2 linked regions of the Homo sapiens genome follow. The protein of the gene in region 1 interacts with the protein of each later gene in a pairwise test. Each region holds a gene or a part of one and is shown on either strand. Other genes may lie near its edges. The genes, in order: SH3BP5 and SPTBN1.

Evidence for each region.
Region 2: the proteins of SH3BP5 (region 1) and SPTBN1 interact in a two-hybrid assay, tested with the Homo sapiens proteins (2 studies listed by BioGRID and IntAct).

The regions. Positions count from the first base shown.
Region 1 is NC_000003.12:15,330,826-15,334,742, forward strand, and holds the start of SH3BP5 (SH3 domain-binding protein 5), read right to left. Parts: upstream 1,762-3,917; 5' UTR 1,584-1,761; coding exon 1,446-1,583; intron 29-1,445; exon of another isoform or gene 1-28. UniProt on the Homo sapiens protein: Functions as a guanine nucleotide exchange factor (GEF) with specificity for RAB11A and RAB25. Inhibits the auto- and transphosphorylation activity of BTK. Plays a negative regulatory role in BTK-related cytoplasmic signaling in B-cells.
Region 2 is NC_000002.12:54,459,059-54,462,975, reverse strand, and holds part of SPTBN1 (spectrin beta chain, non-erythrocytic 1), read right to left. Parts: intron 3,639-3,917; exon of another isoform or gene 3,568-3,638; intron 1-3,567. UniProt on the Homo sapiens protein: Fodrin, which seems to be involved in secretion, interacts with calmodulin in a calcium-dependent manner and is thus candidate for the calcium-dependent movement of the cytoskeleton at the membrane.

The sequences.
Region 1 (3,917 bases):
CAGGTACATGCCTTCAGGTAAACCCCACCTGTTACAAATGGTTTAATGGCCTAATCAAAACAGTACCATCTGCCTTGAGCAAGAACTTTGCTTAGAAAACAATAAAAGACAATAAGCAAGGCCAAGCCAAAAATATAAACCCAGTGAAATCATCAAGGGCAGAATTCTGGTATTAACTCACCAGAATTATTTTTCTGTAAAGGGTGAAAATCTTTTCACACTGCCAATTATTCAACCTACTTAGCTGGACGTTTTAAACTAGCTTTAATCCCATTCCTTTCAATAAACATTTACAAACTGACATTTTGTAAAAAAAGTATCCAACATGAACTTAACTCATCATTACTATGCAAACAAAGGATCTTGCTAACATAATCCCATACCAGTAACACACGATTTATTCCAAACCAATTACTTTAATTAATAGCATTCCTAATGCAAGGATTTTTTTTCCACCTGATCTTTATCTTGCTAAGCTGACAAAACAATTCATTTAAACCCCAACCACTGAGTTAAGTGAGCTTTTAAATTGATCTGTGCACTAAAAAACCAATTAGGTATCCAGAAATTACAGAGCATGCTTAAAAGCAATTTTTTTAAAAAAATGATTTATTGAAAAGGTAGAAAAAAAACGGGCCTTAGAAAGGGATTTGCTCTGCTTTTTGCTTAGGGGTGAAGAGGTGAAACTGTCACTCCTAGATCTCGGCTTGGAAATTGTTTTTTAATCATCTCTCTTGGAAATGGAGGCACAGCCAGCCAGCCCAATCCCCTCGCCGCCTCCACGCGTCAGCTTTGCGCATCAGTTGTCCCCGATTTCTTTTCATGCCCAACCTCACAACAAGGAAAAGCAGGGTTTTAAGCAATTTCAAGCCAGGCAGAACGTTGAGCCAGTGATGACAATAAGCCGCTCAGTTCGCTAACAATCAATCAGAGAAGGAAAACGGCTCAGGCCGGGCACCTTGGCAAGTGAGGACTCTGCACCCGGGGCACCGGTGCCAGCCCGCGCTGCAGGGCAACGCCCACCCGCCCACGGTGCCCGGCGCCCACGCGGGCGACACCTCCTCGCAGAGCCTGGACGCCGTGCCATGCCCGCGGTGCCGCGGCCGGGCAGGGGTACCCCCGAGGATACCATGGCGCCCCCGCCCCCTTTTTCCCTTTGTTGCACATCCACCCGAACCACCAGGCACGCTGCACCGACCCCGATCCTGCTACGGGTCGGCGGGGGACTCCCCGCAATAGAGTCAGGCCGCATCCACGCGGGCACTGTAGCCTCCTCATTGTGGAGACGATGAAACGGAGCATACAGACCGTCTCCTGCCACCCTATGTGGCCGCCAGTCCCCGGACCACAGTTACTGGGGGCTGCGAAGTGGCTGTACGCGTAGACACCGACCTCCGTAGCAGCCCTCGCGAAGCCCGGATGCGGGGCGACCCCGCGCGCCCTACCTGGATCCGGGGATCCACCTCTTCTTCCTCCTCCAGCCCCTGCTCCATCCCCTCTTCCTCCTCCTCCTCCTCGTCCCGGGCAGGCGGCAGGATTTCGGCTGGCTCCTCCGAGCGGCTCCGCTTCAGTGCCGCGTCCATGCAGGCAGCCGGCACGCGCGCCGCGCAGTGGGCTCCGGAGCGCCCCGGGGGTCGCGGCTGCCACAGGCTGGGCTGGAGCCGCCTCGCCACAGCCGGGCACGGTCGGGGAGCCGCCGGGGCCGACACCCGGGAGACGCAGCTCGCCGATGCGGATACCTCCGGCCGCGGCGGAGCAGAGGAAATGGGCGCGGCCGCCCCCTTTCTGCCGCGGCAGTCAGCGCAGCGCCCGCTCCGCCCCCGTCCCGCCCCGGCCTCGCGTTCCGCCGCCAGTCCCAGCTATCCAGGTCTCCGTCGCAAAACCCCAGCTCCCTCCACATCTCCAAGGTGGCAAAATAGGACAGCCCCCACCCCCTTGTAACTTAGCAGCTCGGATATATCTCAACTACGTAACGCAAGCCTCCCGCTTTCGGGAGTCCCCTCCTCCAGCCCTCCTCCGAGGCTCGTTGTTTGTGTGGTAGGGAGGCGTGGGTGTTTTCACACTGAAGTCGCCTTCTGAAGCCTACGCTCAGTGACCCTGGCCCTCAGGACCAAGACTTGCCGAAACCCTATACCCAAAGCACACTCATCCTCTTGAGCGAACCTTGGGAATGGCGGAGGTTCCGTGCACTGATGCATTGCCGAAGGCTGCGGCCTCTCTGGGCGAGCCCCATACCGAAACACAGAGGTGCGGCGGTCCTACCTGAATAGCCAGGAGCATGGAGAATGCATTGAGCTGGGATTTAAGGAGGTGGCAAGTGTAACCCCTGTTGATGGGCACACTCTGGCCAAGAATTTATGAATTAGTGAGACTTTCTGCCCACCATCAACAAGTAGGGAGACAGAGTTGGCCTGGCAGACACAGCATCCGAAAAGGCCAAACTGAAGAGGCACGTGTGTGTGCTTTTATGAAATGTCAGGGCCACTGTGATGTCAGGGGAACGCAAAGGATGACCTTGGCAAAGCAGATGAGCACATGGCTGCTCACGTCTCCTTGCCTTGAGAAATGCAGAACGTGCACATGTCCTACACGGAGGCCTGTAGCCCATCGGCTCTGAGTTTGGAGGACAAATTTGCTTGAGAAAGGAGCTTCTTTCTGAGAACCTATCATCAAAGCCACCTTACAAAACCTGGGTCTGGCACAACGTGGTGGCTCGTATCTGTAATCCCAGCTCTTTGAGATGCCAGGACACAAGGATCACTTGAGGCCAGGAGTTCAACACCAGCCTGGACAATACAGCCAGACCCCTTCTCAAATGAATAAATAGTCCTGCTCCTGGTGGTTTTATCAGAAACTAGGCTAGAGGGTTACTCCTTGGGCAAGGCACCACCCCATACACGCTGGCACTGTAGTCCACTGTCAAAGGAAATTTGTCCTGTCTCCTGGAGGTAGTGCCATGGTTTGTTTCTAAAAAGGTCAGACCTGTTCATTGCTCTTTAAATCAAGGATGAGTCAGCAATTCTGTGAGAGGTGCTTCAAAGCTCCTTGCTAAAGACATAGTTGCTTTTGGTTTTCCAATGATAGATGAAGCCAGGAACAAGATAGCCATAGGGGTCACTTTGGAACACAGGAGCCACCAACCTTCTCTGGTGGCTTGGAATTGAGCCTCCAACTTTGCAGGTACATCCTAGCTCTGAATGAACTGAGAGACAGAGTTTGAAATAAACAGAACTCTGGGGTCAGCCCTGACTATGATAAATGCTTCTCAGCTAGCAGAACCCTATCCTCTCCATTCTAAATGGCAAACTCCAAACTACATTCCTGCTTAAGCTTAGGTCAAGAGCAAAATACATCTATGAGACATAGGCCAACTGCTCAAGAACATCAGTTCAGACTTTTGTTGTCTTATTTTTTGGAGATCTGGGCCAGCTATAGTGTTAATCCTAATAGTCTTTCTAAAGATAAAATGAGAAAAATAAATAAACCACAGGCAGTACTATATACAGTCAACCCTCCATAGCCTCTCAGGTTCCACATGTGTAAATTCAACTAACCACAGATAGAAAATATTTGGGGGAAAAAAACACAACAATTAAAAAAATGCATATTTAAAAATACATGGCCAGGAGTGGTGGCTAACACCTGTAATCCTAGCATTTTGGGAGGCTGAGGCAAGGAGGATCACTGGAGGCCGGGAGTTCCAGACCAGCCTGGGCAACAAAGCGAGACTGCCTTGCTCTCTAGAAAAAAAAAAAATACAGTATATGACAACTATGTACATATTTGCATTGTATTAGGTATTGCAGGTAAGAAATCTAGAGCTGACTTAAAGTATACAGGAGGGGCTGCTCATGGTGGTTCATGCCTGTAATCTCAATACTTTGGAAAGCCAAGGTGGGTGGGTTGCTTGAGCTCAG
Region 2 (3,917 bases), on another chromosome or scaffold:
CAGGAGCTTAAAAACTGAATGCCAGATTTAATCGAGTGGTAGTTACTGCCTAGAACACCATGTCGAGAATATGACTGAGACTATCTCAGCTCAGTGGAAAAAGAGTACCATTACTGATTTTCGATGTCTGCCAGGAACAGAAGCGAGTGATGGCATGTGCCATGTTTTAACCCCCACTATGATTTCATCTAAGTCTTCCATTTTATAAAATTAGATCTGAGACCGGAGGGTTAAAGGTTTGCCAAAGTCACACATCCAGCCTGTTAAAGGTATTTTACCTTCTGTGTATAGTACATAAAATATATTCCATATACTAGAGTATACAGTCCTTTCATTCAGGAACTAATTCTTATTCAACTTTAAGCCAGTCCACAAAACCATAACAACTTCAAGTCCTGGCAAGATAATGTATCCAATAATTATTCATTAAATAAAAAACAATATTACAAAGTAATCTCAGAGTAGCAGTAAAGGAAGATCATTAATACTATAAATGCTTAATGGTCAAAAGAACTGTGTACAAATAAATGTAATTACATTACTTTCAAGAACCAGAACCTAAACTGATAAGGGTTTCTAGTAAGTGGTCTCTTCAGACTGTATTAATCAATATATAAATGCCATTGGTAATGCAGCCTTTTAAAATACAAAAGTTAGAATAAGCCATTTAATAGCTCTCCTGACATAAAAAGGTTTAGGTAGTTTTTGCAAAGCATACCAAAAGGGATCAGTGGGTCATAGTGCTTAGGCAGTCCCAACAGAAAGGAAACAACTGTTATCAACTAAATACGTACTATGTGCCTGGAACTGTACACTGCTGTATCATAACTAAGAGAAACTAATATTATTTTGATTTTTCCAATGAGGAAACTGTGGTCTTGAGTAACTAACTAGCTCAAGGCCAGTACCTAGTGGTAGCCATAAGGCTAGTATACAACACCATTAGGATTTGGGCCCACAACCTGTTTGACTCCAAAACGAATGCTCTTTCCAAACAAAGAAAAACTTTTCTGAAATAAGAAAATTACCCTCACAAACTTTAAAGGACAAAATACTGATTATGACTCTGCTAAATTACAAATAACCGATCATCAAAAGAAATCACAAATTCGAGTTAAGAAAAAAAACACAAGCTGAGAAGTAATTGTCGCAAGACATGTAATCCACAAAGGATTAGTAGTAATCTACATACAGAACTACAAATTAATAAGATAAATGGGTAAAAGACTGAACAGGTACTTCACAAAACGAAGAACCCAAATGGTTAATAATGTAAACAGACATTCAAACTCAATAATCAGAGAAATTGTAAATAAAAATCACAGTGAGATAATGTTTCACTGGACAAGATTTTCAAGCCTGGTATGTGAAGCACTGGCAAGGCTTTGGAACTGTAACACTTATGGCTAGTGGGAACACGATCAACATAATCGCTTTGTAAAAAACAGTTCTACATTCTCTACTAAGGCTGATGATGCATATGCCCTGTGAGCCAGAAAATTTCATTCCCTAGAGACAGCAAATGGGTGTGTGTGCCTCCACATATGTACCAAGAGCCGTGTACAAAAACCACTCACAGCAACCCTTTCACAATAGCAAAAAAACCTGGAATCAATCCAAATCTCCATCTAGAGTACAATGAATAAATAAATCACGTTAGAATACTATACAGCAGGTGAAACTGAATGAAATACAGCCATGAAATGGATAAACCTTGGGAATAGAATCTTAATCTAAATATGTGAGTCAGAAGAATACATAAAGTATAATTTTGTTGATATAAAGTTCAAAATCATACACAATCAAGATTTTTTAAAAAGGATAAACCATAGAGAAGGGAATGATATGCACAAAATCAAGGATATGGGTTGTTTCAGATGGGATGATGGAGGTGGGCTCTGAATGTATAAGGCTCTTCCTGAACTAGCCGGTGGCTGCCTGAGTGTCCCTTGGTTTATGATTTTTATTTTTTTGAGACAGAGTCTCGCTCTTGTCACCCAGGTTGGAATGCAGTGGCGCGATCTCGGCTCACTGCAACCTCTGCCTCCCCAGTTCAACTGATTCTGTTGCCTCAGCCTCCCGAGTAGCTGGGAATTACAGATGCCTGCCACCATGCCCAGATAATTTTTGTATTTTTAGTAGAGATGGGGTTTCACCATGTTGGCCAGGCTGGTCTTGAACTCCTGACCTCAAGTGATCCGCCCCCACTCGGCATCCCAAAGTGCTGGGATTACAGGCGTGAGCCACTGCACCCAGCTGGTTTACGATTCTTTAACATATATTTTAGGAACATTATTTTGTACCTACCAATTAGTTGATTCAAAAAAGAACTCTAAGAAAAGACTGGACGAGAGGGCAGGACATTGACTATATCAGATGACAGACATCAAGATGCCAGAGCAGAGGGAGCAGAGAGGACCCTTTGCTCAGGGGTTAGCTTCCGAGGCTCCAGCTCTGATGTCTCAAAACCAATGCCTTTTTCTTCCAGAGGGGAAAAAGACTGTTTTTCAACTTTAGAGGTGTTTTACAAAACAACCTAAAACACTGATTAATCTAAATAAACCATGGTATATAGGACTCTTCCACCAAGAATTAAAGAACAGCTTTATAAAATAATTTTGTATTAAACAAATAATTTACAGTGAGAGCCTCACTTTTGTCACCACCATCAAGGAAAAAAATGTGCTGATACTTCAGCAAAAGAAAGGAAAATTCAAGAAGGAAACTTTTGATATTGAGGTCCCTTTGCTGAAGGAACAGAATAGAGTTTCTTCATTTAATGTGCATACAACTCACTTAAAGGTCTTGTTAAAATGTTGATTCCGATTGGCTGAGTTCAGAGTGGGGCCTAAGAATCTGCATTTGCAACAAGCTTCCAGGCGATTCTAATGTTGAAGGTCCGTGAACCTCACTATGATAGCAAAGGACATTATGAAAATGCCTTCTCCAGAGATGTTTAAAAATAGAAACACAGGTATATCTAATTGGTGTAATTTCCTTTAACCACTGAGTAGAAAAAAATAGATGATGTTATTCCCACACAATAAAAATTTAAATATAATTACAAGTGCTACCGGAAAAATCAGAGTACTAAACTAGGTCTTTTGCAAAGAAAAGATGCCCTGAGAAAAAGCAAAGACTGAAAATTTACAAGAAAAACCCATGAGATGCTTTACTCACTTCCACAGACCTACAAAGTTCACTCTTCTAACAGGGGTAGTTAGCCCCTTCCTTCTGGAAGAATGGTTTGCATTTCCAATAATGTAGTGAAAGAAACTACGGCTGCCATTAAATAAAGCCCAATTATAATGAAGATACTAGTTACGATGCAACATAATTAAAGGAGCATCATGTCATTGCACGTAAAAAAAATTAGGCTTTAAAATGTTCTATAAGAATATGCTATTAAAAAGAAAAGCTTAAAATTATTTCGACAAAATCCACACTGAATGATTTCCACTAATCATGTCTATGTTAGCAGTAGTAAAATCCTTCCACGTCAAAATAGTACTTCCACATGTAAAGTCATACATTCAAACATCAAGACAAAGCAACCACTCTACAAACCCTTCCAGGAAACTCTGCCAATGCCAAGCCTCTGCTCAGGATGTGTCACAAGTAGAGGGAGGTCTTCTCATTTGCTCTGCAACATCACAGATAGTTGTTACTAGTCTTGCCCAAGAGAAGTTCTTCACAGAAAACCTCAACTGTGGGAGACGACCTAGTGACAGCAGTTCCTTCACTGCCCAATACTTCTCCTCTCAGATGAAGGTTTTGGTCACTCCAGTAATGACAGAGTTACAAAGAGCTTAACCCAACAGAATTCTGCACCTGCTGTGTAAGTCAGAACAGCTAAACCTCCTGTGACATCAACACAGGATATTTCTTACAACAAAGTAAATCCAAAACGTTTGGAT